2 linked regions of the Homo sapiens genome follow. The protein of the gene in region 1 interacts with the protein of each later gene in a pairwise test. Each region holds a gene or a part of one and is shown on either strand. Other genes may lie near its edges. The genes, in order: MTR and MMACHC.

Region 1 (7,272 bases):
CATCTTTGAAAATTACATTTGAAGAATGCAGTGTAAATGGAATTAGATATTCCAAGTGTTAAAAAAACATGGGACTGGCTGAGTTTAGGGGTTACTTCATTTAAATCCTCACTTTTCACTCAGACTAGTCAAAATAGCACCCATTTCAGGCTAGACTTGTTGCCAAGCTAATCTTTTTAAAAGTACAATAACATACACTTGTAAAAATTTGAAACAGTGCAGAAAGAACGAGAAATAGCCAAACCATGAGTTCCCTCACCTCTGATCCCCTAATCCCATTCCGTGGAGGTAACCACTTAAAAATTTCTGTGTATCCTCTTAGACTTTTTATTTTTTATTTTTTAAGAGATGAGGTCTCAGCACAGGCTGGAGTGCAGCTGTGCAATCATAGCTCACTGCAGCCTCAAACTCCTGGCCTCAACCGATCCTCCCACCTCAGCCTCCTGAATAGCTGGGTTTACAGGCATGTGACACTGTGCCCAGCTCTTCTTGACGTTTTAATGCATATACTGGTGTATATTTCCTTATACACACACCGAATCAGAATATACTTTCAGTTCTACAATTTGACAATACACATAGCTGATTTATAGCAAGTATGCCATGAACTGAGGGTTTTGTTTTGTTTTGTTTTTGCAGGGCTGCCAATATGCTGTCTTCACGGGACGGTAAAGAAAGTATCACTTGGGCCGCATCTAATATGAAATACTGAAGGTGGGTGTAGAGAGGGTGCTAGGGCTTTGATACAGCGCTTTCTTTCTGAGAGAGAGAAAACCATCATGCTCCCCCCGCCCCGAACTCATTTAACAAGGCTTGATGGAGTGAACAATTTCATGGCAGGCACTGAGCTAGGCTCTGGGTATCCTGAGCTCAGGAAGAGGCAGGGCCCCTGCCCTCATGAGGCTTTACAGTCTGCTCTCCATCCAACTCCTGTCCCTAGAGGATCTGCTCAATTCAAGACAACCTTTACTGAGCACCTATCATAAAGCAAGCACTATTTTAGACGCCATATAAAGATGAGTAAGGTTCCAAACCTGCCCTTAGGGAATGTTAAGTCTAACAGAGAACTAGATGAAGTTTCAGCAAGGGCTGTATGAAATGTGCATGGCGGTGTTACAGAGGCAAGAAGAGGGGTCACTTCACTTAGCTTTGGGGTGGTGGGAGGGAGGGGTTGGGAAGCTTTCCTGACTTGGGTGGAACCGGGGTGGGGTTATTCCAGACAGAGGGGCCAATGTGAGCAGGTACCTCCTTCAGGGTACAGCAGCAGTCTAGGGCTTCCAAGACATGAGGCAGGGTCAGACATGGAAGGCTTTGCATGCCTCTAAGGGGCTGGGATATATCCTAGGTCACGGGGAGATGGTTATTCAGGCAGCAGGAGGATTGAGGCGGGGGTGTAAAGAATCAGAGAGCCCACTCTTCCAGCTCTAGGAGGTGGGAACCAACCCGGCAGCCTGTGTTGCAGATGAATCCAGAGGAGAAATGATGAGAACCTTAACCAGGGCAGGCGTAGAGATGAACTTAAGACCTATCTAGCGCGTAAAATCGCCAGGGCTTGAGAACCAACTGGATGTGAAGGTTGAGAAAAAGAAAAGTGTTATGGTCTGATGTATCCCCCAAATCATGTTGAAATGGAATCCCCAGAATGATGGTGTTTGGAGATGGCATCTTTGGGAGGTAATTAGGTCATGAAGGTGGAGCCCTCATGAATGGGATTAGTGCCTTTTTAAGAGGAGGCCAGAGAGCAAGCTTACCCTCCACCCACTGTGAGAACATGAGAAGCTGGCCGCTGCATCCCAGAAGAGGGCCCTCACCAGAACTCGGCCATGATGGCACCATGATCTTGGACTTCCAGACTCCTGAACTGTAAGAAATAAACATCTGTTCTCTATAAGCTAACCAGTTTGTGGTATTTTGTTACAGGAGCAGGAGCTAAGACTGGAGGGGTCAGGGGCAACTCCCAGGTTGATGGTGTTACTGACTGGCAGAAGAAATTCAGTCTCCCTGGAAGTTGGGTTAAAATAATTGTTTTTAAAGACTTCTGCACTATCTGCAACCCTCTGTACTTGTGCTTTACCCTCAGCATATAATCCTTTTTCTGTCTGAAACACTCTCAATCCTACCTTTCCCTCCAATCTTCTTTAAATGAGTCAACAAGTCTTCCACACCTCCCATTGTCTTCAACCTAGCAAAGCCAGCTGTGTGCCAACAGTCCCCACAATCCCCTGACGCTGCTCTTGAGGGGCTCACTGTGAGAAGGGCCCTCAGCAATCCCATTCCCAGGCCTCTTTGCAGCATTGGGTTCTGCTGGCATGCTTCGAAACGCTCTTCATTGCTTTCTCGGCATTGCACTCTCCCTCCTGGCTTCCTCCAACCCACAGCTGCTCCCCTGCTGGCTCCCCCTCCTCCTCCTCCAGATTCTCTTCTCCTCATATGCTCCATAGATGATCCCATCGCACTGCAGCCTGACCTCCATCTCCACGTTCAAGTCTCTCAATTCTAACTCCAGACATTCTTTTTAAATTCCAAAGTCTAGTATCCAACTGCCTATATTCAGTCTAGTCACATCGAATCTTTCCAAAACTCATCATTTCTCCCATCCCCTGGCCTCTGTCTTAGCAAATGGTCCAGCCATCCACTCATTCCCCAAAGCCTGGTATCTGGGCACTGCTGGCAGCAGCAAGGATGCACCACTCTCCTGCCCCTCACCTTTCTAGCTGCTGTTTACCCTAAGATGTTCTTCCTTTCCTTAAAAACTGTATTTGACATATACAAACATTACCTACAAAATCACCATACCAGATTTTAGGTTATCATTCCACTTTGCCTTTATTTTTTATAATATATTTAAGTAGAACATATTTAATATGTAAAAAACTGTTATCTATTAGTTATAAAGTATAATGTATTAATAGCATATAGTAAACACTTGTAAGCCTACCAGGAGGAACCAGAACAGCTGCATAACTTGGCATCTACCTATGTGCTCCTGTCCCTTCCACTTCCTCCTTCTGTGGGTAATTACTATGCTCAATTTTGGTTTATCAGTTACCTTCTTTTTTTTTAATAGCATAGTTTTATTGTATACGTATGCTTAGACTACATATTCTTTGGTTTTGCTTGTTTTTGGGCTCAATAAAAATAGTACGCCCCATGTGGTCTCTTCAAACTTGCTTTTTTCCTTAATATTTTCTGAGATTCATTCTTATTGTGAGGTATAGCTGTAGTTCACTCATTTCCACTACTGAATAATATCCCGTAGAATGAATATATATATCTAATTATTCACCTATTTTCCTGTAGACAGACATACATTTCACTTTTTCCAGTTATTAACTATTATAAATATGTAACTATGAACATTCTTACACATTCCTCCTAGTGGCCACATGCAAGAGTTTGCTGGACATACAGGTGGGAGTTGGAAGCAAGATCATAACGTCTGCAAATGTTCAAGTCTGTAAGGGATAATTGTTTTTTAAAGCAGTGGTGCCTGTTTACACATCCACAATGTTGTACAAGTCCCTACAGATCTAACAACTGGTACTGTCAGACCCAACCTTTGCAAATCTTATGGATATAAAATGGAATCTCATTGTGGTCCTAATTCATATTTCCCTGACCAATGCTACAGAACATCTATTTATTTAAAAGCCCTATTTCCTCTTGTGTAGTCTTCACTATTTTTCTATTTTTTTAAATAGGAATTCTCTATATTTGTGATTATGAATCCTTCATCAGTTATTTGTATTATAAATGTCTTCTCAAGTTGTGGATCATCTTCTCACTTCAAGTGTTTGCTTAATATAAGCCTTGAGTTTTAACAGAATTGACTTAACCATCTTGTCCTTTATGATTACTACTTTATGTCTCAAGAGATTCTTTCCTGCCCTAAGGCTTTTTTCATCCAAACACTGACAATTTTTGCTTTTTGTATTAAAGCCCTTAACATATTTGGAACTTATCACCAGGTAAGGTGAGAGAAAGTAAAATTTCTTTTTTTCCCACATGAATAGCCATTGTTCTGGGATTACTTAGGGAGTGGTCCTTCCTGTCCCCACTGACTTGCCATGTCACCAGGTCATTTTGCAAAGGTCAACATATGCACGGGTGAGTTTCTAGGCCCTTATTTTGTTCCCCTGCTCAGAATGCCTACCTCTGCACCATGACACTGTCTTGACAATAAAACTTGGTATCACATAGGGTGCGTGTCCCCAACCTCTCCTTCATATTTAGAAGCATTTGGTAATTTTAAGTCCTTTGCTACTCCATATAAACACCTGCTTGTTTCATTCAATAAAATCTGTTGGAATTTCCATTGAAAATGGTATTAAATCCATAGATCAATTTTAGGAGACCTGATACCTTTATAATCTTGAATATTCCTATTCATGAACAAAGATGGTTCTTCATTTGTTCCTCCCTTGCTTCTTCGTCTTCATCCTTCGAATCAAACCAGGACTCCAATGTTACCTTCTCCTGACTATTGCCACCACCATCTTGAAGTAGGATGAGTGTATATTTTGCATGCAAATTTTTGAAATAACTGCAATCATCCAAGAAAAAGATGACATGGTTGAGTTTGAGGCTTGTTGCTTGAGTGGTGGCACCATTCTTCATTACTGAATATATTGAGAATTGAGGGGAATAAAATGGTAAGAAATGAGTGACTTTATGCTGCCCACTTGTCCAACTCCGCACGGGATATCAGAGCCCAGCTGAGAACCTGCTCAATCCTGGAAACAATTAAAAGATGTTAACCGGCCAGGCTCGGTGGCTCACGCCTGTAATCCCAGCATTTTGGGAGGCTGAGGTGGGCAGATCACGAGGTCGGGAGATCAAGACCATCCTGGCTAACACAGTGAAATCCTGTCTCTACTTTTTTGTATTTTGTAAAAACACAAAAAATTAGCCGGGTGTGGTGGCGGGCACCTGTAGTCCCAGCTACTCTGGAGGCTGAGGCAGGAGAATGGCATGAACCCAGGAGGCGGAGCTTGCTATGAGCCGAGATTGCGCCCCTGCACTCCAGCCTGGGCGACAGAGCCAGACTCTGTCTCAAAAAAAAAAAAACCAAAACAAAACAAAACAAAAAAAATGTTAACCACCCTTAACAGTAACTTTCTCTCCTCATTTCCTTTTTGTTTCCTCAGGGGTACGGAAATATGAAATTATGGGAGGACGAAAATGCCCAGAAAGCATGGCTGCTTGACCACACTGGGGCAAATGGCTTCAGTGTTTCTGACAAGCAAGCAGTGAGCGCATGCCTTTTGCCAAAGGGAGTTCTGCAGCCATTTAGTCCAGCCTTTAGAAAACGAGGTCTTCCGAAGAGAACAGAGCTACACCTTCCCCGTCAGAATCCACTGTTATAACCACTTAGATTAAAATGCCCCATTTCTCACAGTATCATTTTGTCACAGGGTCACACTTCTCTATTCAACTCAGTTTCAGGCTTTTCTTCTAAGAGGAAAAAAAGACGACTAAGTGGCCTCCTAGATTCCACTGTAAAAACAGAAAAAAGCAGGTTGACTTGCTTTGAAATCAAACGACCTCTGTCTTCAGTCTGTCCCCATCTCAGAGGGACCAGGGAAACCACAGGAACCCTGCTCACTGCTCTTCACGCAAGGTCCCAAAAAAACAGCGCCTGTTTTCCAGGCACTGCAGGAAGACCCTGCTCCTCTACAAGGTTCCACTAAATAGTCTTCGAAAACCAGAAGCAGGTAAGTGTCAGCCAGATGCACACAGGTTTTTTGTTGTTGTTATTTTTAAGGCACCCTAGGTTGTATTTCCTTGAGGATCATCAAGAATAAAAAAGGCAAAAAAAAAAAAAAAGTTAGTCTGTATCATATCCCAAAATGGGTCCAAGCCATTTCTCAACCTCAGCCACAGATATGTTCTTCCTCAATGCATAATCCTCAACCTGCAAAAGATGAGAAGCATTTTATTAAACCAACATGATAAGACTTTTGGAATAGAAGTTTCCACAAGATTTGCCAAGAAACATTAAGTACCTTGCATTTCTTGTCTTAATAGCAATCTACAGAGTTAAATGGAGATAGATATTTATCTACCAAGTTGCCTTTTTCTCTGGGCAGAAAAACATGTAGTAAACATCTGATGCTTAGAAGCTGTATGTGTGTGTGTGTGTGTGTGTGTGTGTGTGTGTGCGTGTGTGTGGCTTGCATGTAGAAGTGAGGGCTAGAATAGAGGTATTCTATTGAAATCAAATTAAGACATTAACTGGAGTAAATTTCTTCATCCTTTCCCCTCACTTTATTCTCATTCACATTTAAAATGAGAGAGGTTCTAGAATTTCATTTGAACTAGGCAAGCCACATATAATGCAACAGCTAGCTTACCTGATCCTTGGAAATCTTCCCCACAGCAAAATATTTGGACTTCAAATTGGAGAAGTAGAGGCCTGAGACTGCTGAAGCAGGTGCCATTGCTAATGATTCTGTTAACCTAATGCCTAGAGGGAGCAACACAGGGAAAATGCTTATGGACTCAGTGTCTAGCACAGGGCCTGCAGCTAGCAGGCACTCAATGAACTCTTGTTGAACAAGTGAACCAAAGCGAGCTCATGCCTTCTAGGTAGACACATGACACAGCATGAAAGCTGTGATCAGAGAAGTCTAGCAAATTCCTGCCAGGTGAAGAAACAAATTCGGGACATGCAGATCTCCTCTAACCCAGGGGGACAGGCCTGGGAAAGACTCTACACTCCCACCTCCAGCCATCCCAGATCAGTTACAGGTGCCCTAATTTGCTCCTAAGCCTAGACCTTCTCAGGCAGGAGCTCTACCCCTGGAGATGAGAACAACAACTGAACAGCCTCCACCGGCTCTGTGCGGCCACTGATACTAGGGACGACTGAGAGCTCCAGTGAAGAAGGAACCCACAACATTGTGAGAAAGAAGAGACAGTTTTCCTTGGGATCTGAGAGCTCAAACAGACCCTCAAGGATATCTATTCGAAGCCACTCATTCTATGAACAAGGAAACAGAGCAACATGAAGGGTGAGTGCTTTGCCAGAGGTCGCCCAGCTAGCTTATGGCAGAAACAGGACTCAAACCCAGATCTCATGACTCCTAGAGTTAGTGTTGTTCCTGCTGAAGCAGATTCAGCACAGCTCATGGTTTCTCACTTAAATCTGGATGCCTTTATCAGCTTTGATGGCATGCTTTTTATTAATTCCGCTGAAAACTGTGAGCTTAGCCTGGGCCATCTCAACTACATGAACTCTGCAGTAATGACAGAACCAGGACATTGACATGA
Region 2 (7,724 bases), about 190 Mb from region 1:
TTTTGAGATGGAGTCTCACTCTGTCACCCAAGCTGGAGTGCAACGGCATGATCTCAGTTTACTGCAACCTCCACCTCCTGGGTTCAAGTGATTCTCCCACCTCAGCCTCTCGAGTAGCTGGGATTACAGGCACCCGCCATCATGCCCGGCTAATTTTTGTAGAGATGGGGTTTCACCATGTTAGCCAGGCTGGTCTTGAACTCCTGACCTCAGGTGATCCGCCCACCTCGGCCTCCCAAAGTGCTGGGATTATAGGCGTGAGCCACCGCGCCCTGCCAATCTCTCCTCCCTCTGTAACATCCAAACATACAAAGGTACCTCACTGACTCTCTATCAGGTAAAGAATGCCTTTATGGGATACAACCCAGATACTCATACTACCCCAAAAGCCCAAGTCAAATCTAGGATAGCTGAACTTTGGTCCCCAGTGCCCGACCTGTGAGACAATTTCCCTCCAATGGCACAGCACCCATACCCCCTGACCTAAGGAGGTTGTGCTCCCTCCAGGCATCTTGGTCCTCTGTCCTGGTAGCCTCCAGGGTATGACCCTTGCCTTCCTGGCCACTTTGCAACTGCTCTAACATCTGCCAGATCATGGGCTCAGGTGGAACCAAACCTCTCCCTCTCTCCCTCCCCATGACTGTCCTCTTCAGCACACTTGGAACCCTCATGTCGGCAAGGATAGTTTCTCATGGCCGGGAGCAGAAAGGTTAGAAAGAAGAGCTCTGGAGAGAGAGAGAGTCAGCACAGGGAAGAGAGGAATGAAGACAGGGGCAGGAGAGGGTATCCTGGCCTCCCTGCAGAACAGGATAGACAGAGAAAGGAAAGGTCCTCCATAGAGAAATATGCAGAGACAAGTCTGAACCTAGTCCTACCTTCCAACTGCCAACCTGAGCCTGTCGTCCCTCAGCCAGCTGTTTCAGCAGCAGCTCCTGGTGCTGGCCTGCAGATGAGAGAGAATGTAAGGGGGCTGTTCCCCAACTTCTTTCCTTCTCCCTCCCTGCCTGTGACCAGCCTGCTGCCAAAAACTGAGACAGAAACATTCTGGCTCAGCCATTGGGACGCTTCCAAGCTGACTGAAGAGATTAAACTCACACCATGAGAGACAAAGAGTGCAACAAAATACTTGGCCACACTTCTCAGTAGCTCAGGCAGTTGGAGCCATGGCCACTTAATGGGAGAGCAAGAAGACTTTCCAGGCCAGGCGCAGTGGCTCACACCTGTAATCCCAGCACTTTGGGAGGCCAAGGCAGGCGGATCATCTGAGGTCAGGAGTTCGAGACCAGCTCGGCCAACATGGTGAAACCCCATTTCTACTAAAAATACTAAAAATATGAAAAAAAGTGGCTGGGCATGGTGGCGGGCACCTGTAATCCCAGCTACTCAGGAGGCTGAGGCAGGAGAATCGCTTGGACTCGGGAGGCAGAGGTTGCAGTGAGCCAAGATTGCGCCATTGCAACACAGCCTTGGCAACAGGCAACAGAGCGAGGCTGGGCAACAGAGCAAGACTCCATCTCAAAAAGAATAAAAATAAATAAAAATAAATAAAAGAAGAAGATGACTTTCCAGAAAAGGGGACAAGGAAACGCATATTCGCCCCCAACCACCTTTTACTTACTCAACTGGTACTGCAGCAACTTCAATTCCTTCTGCATAATCTCTGACTCCTCCCACAGCACTGCAGGAGTGACAGCAGTGCTATTCTAAAGTCAATCAACAAATCCAGAGTAAGAAGGCAAGTAGAGTATCTAGGGTCTTGTGAAACTCTTAGAGAGGATGATCCCCAACTTGTCCCACTACAAATGCCAAAAGTTCAAAGGCCTCAAGAAGGCAAGGCCGCACTCAGTGCTCAATGGCGCCCAGGCTGGAGTGCAGTGGCGTGATCTCGGCTCGCTACAACCTCCACCTCCCAGCCGCCTGCCTTGGCCTCCCAAAGTGCCGAGACTGCAGCCTCTGCCCGGCCGCCACCCCGTCTGGGAAGTGAGGAGCGTCTCCGCCCGGCAGCCACCCCGTCCGGGAGGGAGGTGGAGGGGGTCAGCCCCCCGCCAGGCCAGCCGCCCCGTCTGGGAGGGAGGTGGGGGTGTCAGCCCCCCGCCCGGCCAGCCACCCCATCCGGGAGGTGAGGGGTGCCTCTGCCCGGCCACCCCTACTGGGAAGTGAGGAGCCCCTCTGCCCGGCCACCACCCCGTCTGGGAGGTGTGCCCAACAGCTCATTGAGAACGGGCCAGGATGACAATGGCGGCTTTGTGGAATAGAAAGGGGGGAAAGGTGGGGAAAAGATTGAGAAATCGGATGGTTGCCGTGTCTGTGTAGAAAGAAGTAGACATGGGAGACTTTTCATTTTGTTCTGTACTAAGAAAAATTCTTCTGCCTTGGGATCCTGTTGATCTGTGACCTTACCCCCAACCCTGTGCTCTCTGAAACATGTGCTGTGTCCACTCAGAGTTAAATGGATTAAGGGCGGTGCAAGATGTGCTTTGTTAAACAGATGCTTGAAGGCAGTATGCTCATTAAGAGTCATCACCACTCCCTAATCTCAAGTACCCAGGGACACAAACACTGCCGAAGGCCGCAGGGTCCTCTGCCTAGGAAAACCAGAGACCTTTGTTCACTTGTTTATCTGCTGACCTTCCCTCCACTATTGTCCTATGACCCTGCCAAATCCCCCTCTGTGAGAAACACCCAAGAATGATCAATAAAAGAAAAACAAACCCAAAAAAAAAAAAAAAAAAAAAGAAGGCAAGGTCTTGACTATCCCTTACTCAGTCTGCAGCTCCTGAGGAAGGCCATTGGTAGTACTGCATTCTCCTGGTCCTGTTTGCATCTGGGCTTGGGCTTGGGCTTGGGTTTGCTCCCACACCTGGCTCTGAAGGCCCTGCAGTTCCTTTCTCAGCTCCTCCAGGCATTGCTCCAGGAGAAAAGCACTCCCCTTTGGGGCCCCCTGCAGCAACCTTAGTGATGCTGTAGTGGGACAAGTTAGGGATCATCCTCTCTAAGAGTTTCACAAGACCCTAGATACTCTACTTGCAAAACAAGACACATGTGCACACACAACAGGTGTGTGGCAAAATTGTGTGCATACATATGAAGCTGTGTATATGAAGAAAATAACTGGCCAGATACCTTCCAGGACACTGATCTGGTACTTCTGCTGCTCTCGCTCTTCTAGCAGGCCCTGCACTGCCTGCCTTAGTGCCTGTCACCTCCCCAGGCAGAAAAAAGCACATGAACTACTGTATAACAGCTTTTCCCGACCCCTAGTATCCTCATCTTACACAAACATCACATATACACACCAAGGATTCCAAGCCTCACCTGAGCCTGACATTGAAATTAGGATCAGAGAATAGCAACCTCACCCCAGAGAGAGGATGGGCTCTAGGACTCAGGGCAGCTCAGCCTTTGTGGAACTATGGGAGTCTCTAAAGCCCAAGGCTGTTGAGCTTGGACTCCTGACTGCAGAGGCAAGTGATGAGAGGAAATCCAGGTCCCAGCCAGGTCCCCGGCTGAGGAAATAAGGAAGGGTTAAGTGCAGGGTCTGTGTGGGGAAACAGAGTTCAGGAAAGGACAGAGTTGGAATTTGGAAGGAATAATGGATGATACGGGCACTGGAGGAAGGCACAGAAAGAGAAAGGGCTTGGAAGTAGAAAGAGACATTACTTACCTGCGGTGGAGACCCCAAGAAGATACAGCCACTGCTACAGAAGAAACAGATGCACAGGCCAATGAGCTCTGTGGAGACCCCAAGAGGATACAGCCACTGCTACAAAAGAAACAGATGCACAGGCCAATGAACTCTGAGAGTCCCTTAGCCTCCCCACGCAAACTGGGGACCTCCACCAACCCCTCACCTTATTCCGGACCACATTTCCATCAGTAGCGTTGAGAAGCACATCCAGCTGCTCAAACCAGCTGAGGCTCGTATTCATATCCTGTGGCAGGGGAGCGGCAGGGGTCTGGCTCCCTGGTGTCTTGTGCTTGCTCTCCTAGCGGGGGATACCCAAGGTATCCCCAGGAAAGGCCACCACGTTAGATGGAAAGAGGGAAGTGGGGATGCAACACTGGGGTAGGTGGATGCACTATCAGACCAAAACTGCGATCCTGTGACTAGGGAAAGGAAGGACGCTCTTGGGGAACTGGGGGAAAAGCGGGATACCGTGATGATACGCAGATATCAGGTGGGGATTGAAGGTGCCAGAACCTGGTTGAGACCTCCCCAGAAGTAGTACACTGGCGCCACCACGCCAAACCTGTGCCAGTGACAACTGCCGCCGCCGGGTTCAAAACTTCGGGTTGGTTTTGAAAGTCCGACTTTGGACTGGCTGCCGCAGCGCCACCTGGGAAACTGAGGTCGCCTCTTGCGAACACAACCGGCGATGGAGGCGGTGGAACTACCTTTCTCTAGAAGAGACACGTACATGCACACCCCCACCGTGTAGCTTGCCGGGAAACTGAGTCTTCCTGATTTCGTGTGGCTGTCTCCAAGGAGGAAACGAACTACGCATCCCAAGATGCATCGCGCATAGGCAATATGGTCCCGCTACTGGACCCATTTCCTACCTGGGAAATGGAGTCGAAGCTGACTCAAAACGTAACGGCCCAATTGTCCTTGAGACTTCATTCCCCAGCAAGCTCAGCGTGTAACGTGCGCTATGGAGCCGAAAGTCGCAGAGCTGAAGCAGAAGATCGAGGACACGCTATGTCCTTTTGGCTTCGAGGTTTACCCCTTCCAGGTTAGTTTATCCCTCCTGCTGTTCTAGGGCGAAATATATGATTGGCTTCGTTGCAACTGGCGTGAGGCCTCGGGAGCCTCTGATCCTCCTGGGTTCCTGCAGCCCAGTGTCCATGTGACAACAGGGACAGAGTTTCAGTGGGGGCTTGGGTTAAAAAGGTAGTGGTCGAGGCCGGGCATGGTGGCTCACGCCTGTAATCCCAGCACTTTGGGAGGCCGAGGCGGGCGGATCACCTGAGGTGAGGAGTTCGAGACCAGCCTGGCCAACATGGTGAAACCCCATCTCTACTAAAAATATAAAATTAGCCGGGCGTGGTGGTGCATGCCTGTAATCCCAGCTACTCGGGAGGCTGAGGCAGGACAATTGCTTGAACCCATGAGACGGAGGTTGCAGTGAGCCGAGATTGCGCCATTGCAGTCCAGCCTGAGCAACAAAGAGCGAAACTCCGTGTCAAAAAAAAAAAAAAAAAAAAAAGTTGTCGCATGTTTAACCTTTTGCCACCATATAATGCCGGATTCGTTAACGGGAGACACCATATGACCTGTAGCGTGTGTGGCTCAGATTGTCACCTATATAATTTACAAGAAGAAAGGGACCTGTGAGGCAAAGTCACCTTGGAACTTCCTAAAGGATTTAGGAGAGGGCAAAGCCTAGAAGGTTTGCATAGCTATCATTTAGGTCAGCTGAGGAAGGAAGGGCATTCCTGGTGATGAACAGGCAAACAATTGGCTGGTTTGTTCCCTCTACCAACAGAAGGATAATTCATGATATTTCCAGTCATCAGTGCTGGGCTGGGTAATGAAACTTTGTACACTTGCCTGGCACAGCAGTCTCAGCACCGCACCCCGACCCCCATTTACACGGTTACATTTCCCCACATCAGTGCCCTGTGCACTGAGCAGTTAAGTTACAAAGCTAAATCAGCTCAGCTTGAGCCCTTTGCCTGATGCTTAAGAGACTACCCACTTCCCATTCCTTCTGCTGAGTGGCTCACAGCAGTCCTGGGAGAGGATATAGAGGGAGAAGTAGGTTGGGTCTAGCTTGAGACTGGTCTTGCCAGAAAAAATGGAATTGAGCTATATATGAAAAGATAGATTGGAAGGAAGGAGGGTTATGTACATCCCAAATATCAGAAAAAGCTTGAGTAAAGGTGTGGAGATAGTGGTGTGGTGTTACCAAGTAAAAGGGCTTGATGCCTGATGTGCTGGAAGCTAATATTATGACACTGGGTTTTTGAGAAAACAAAAGCTATTTGTTGCAGATCGACCTTTAACTCTTTGAGACACCGTTTCAGTGGATGGCAGGTGTGTGGGAGAGTGAGAATGCCTATCTGGCAAGTTGAGTAGACCTGGGTATTAGGAGCTTTTGTACTGAACAAAGCCAACTGCAGCCCTGCCAGTCACCCTAGGCTCCTACCTCTCACCTCCCTACCCCCACATCCAATCAGCCACCAAGACCTATAAGACTGTCTACTGAATCTCCCAAATCCATTCCCTTGTATTCCACCCATCTATGCTGTGGTCCAGGCCACCATTTCTCACTTGGATTACTGTAATAACCTCCTTGCTGTAATTTTACCTCCAGTCCCTCCTCCACACTGCAGCCAGTGTGATCTAAAAATGATCATGCTAGTTTACTCCTTAAATCTTCAGTGGCTCTTCACTGTCACCAAATTAAATCCATATTCCTTAAATTGGTATTCAAAGCCAATCAAAATCTCACTCCTATTGATCTCTCCAGCCTTCTCTCCCTCTGATTCCCTCTACAGACCCTTCACTTCCACCAAACTAGACAATTCTCAAATATACCCAGGAATTTTCTGCCAGTGTGTTTGCTTATGCTGTGACTTGTTTATTTTATTCTTTATTTATTTAGAGACAAAGTCTCACTCTGTCCTCCCGGCCGGAGTGCAGTGGTGCAATCATAGCTCACTGCAGCCTCAAACTCCTGGGCTCAAGTGATCCTCCCACTTTAGTCTCCCAAGTAGCTGACTCCAGGCATGCACCAACACTCAGGGTCTCACTTTGTTGCCCTGGCTGGTCTTGAACTCCTGGCCTCAAGTGATCCTCCTGCTTCGGCCAGCCACCCAAAGCACTGGGATTACAGGCATGAGTCACCGCACTCAGTCTGTGACCTCTTTTTAAAATACACACCAGTGAGTTTATGTGTTTTTTGGTGAAATATAAATAATAAATAAATGCACACCAGATTCTCCTCCCTACATCAACCTGACAGTTGACCAGTTGACTTTCTAGCCTTCAAGACTTAGCATCCAAGGAAGCCTTTTCTTTTCTTTTTTTTTTTTTTTGAGATGGAGTTTCGCTCTTGTTGCCCAGGCTGGAGTGCAATGGTGCGATCTCAGCTCACCACAACCTCTGCCTCCCGGGTTCAAGTGATTCTCCTGCCTCAGCCTCCAGAGTAGGTAGGATTACAGGCATGTGCCAACATACCCGGCTAATTTTGTATTTTTTTTAGTAGAGACAGTTTCTCCATGTTGGTCAGGCTGGTCTTGAACTCCCGACCTCAGGTGATCTGCCTGCGTTGGCCTCCCAAAGTGCTGGAATTACAGGCATGAGCCACCATGCCCGGCCACAAGGAAGCCTTTTCTAATTTCAGAGGACCCTTATCTGACCCTGTCATTGCACTAGCTATAGTACAGTCATTTCTATTGTTCTTAGTGGTTCTGCCTATTAGAACTTTCTGCAGCCAGGCGTGGTGGTTCTCACCTATATCCCAGCACTTTGGGAGGCCAAGGTGGGTAAATTACTGGAGGTCAGGGGTTCAAGACCAGCCTGGCTAACATGGTGAAATCCCGTCTCTACTAAAAATACAAAATTAGGTGGGCGTGGTGGTGTGCACCTGTAATCCCGGCTACTCGGGAGGCTGAAGCAGGAGAATCGCTTGAGCCCAGGAGGTGGAGGTTGTGGTGAGTCGAGATCGCGCCATTGCAGTCTAGCCTGGGCAAGAAGAAGAGCGAAACTCCATCTCAAA

What was found.
Region 2: the proteins of MTR (region 1) and MMACHC interact in binary tests that used the Homo sapiens proteins (3 or more experiments, as listed by UniProt).

Annotation. Positions count from the first base shown.
Region 1 is NC_000001.11:236,896,200-236,903,471, reverse strand, and holds part of MTR (methionine synthase), read right to left. Parts: intron 6,467-7,272; coding exon 6,354-6,466; intron 5,915-6,353; coding exon 5,828-5,914; 3' UTR 1-5,827. UniProt on the Homo sapiens protein: Catalyzes the transfer of a methyl group from methylcob(III)alamin (MeCbl) to homocysteine, yielding enzyme-bound cob(I)alamin and methionine in the cytosol. MeCbl is an active form of cobalamin (vitamin B12) used as a cofactor for methionine biosynthesis.
Region 2 is NC_000001.11:45,495,681-45,503,404, forward strand, and holds the start of MMACHC (cyanocobalamin reductase / alkylcobalamin dealkylase), read left to right. Parts: upstream 1-4,619; 5' UTR 4,620-4,652; coding exon 4,653-4,733; intron 4,734-7,724. Other genes in the region: transmembrane protein CCDC163, read right to left, coding at 1,619-1,703, 3,665-3,763, 3,852-3,929. UniProt on the Homo sapiens protein: Cobalamin (vitamin B12) cytosolic chaperone that catalyzes the reductive decyanation of cyanocob(III)alamin (cyanocobalamin, CNCbl) to yield cob(II)alamin and cyanide, using FAD or FMN as cofactors and NADPH as cosubstrate.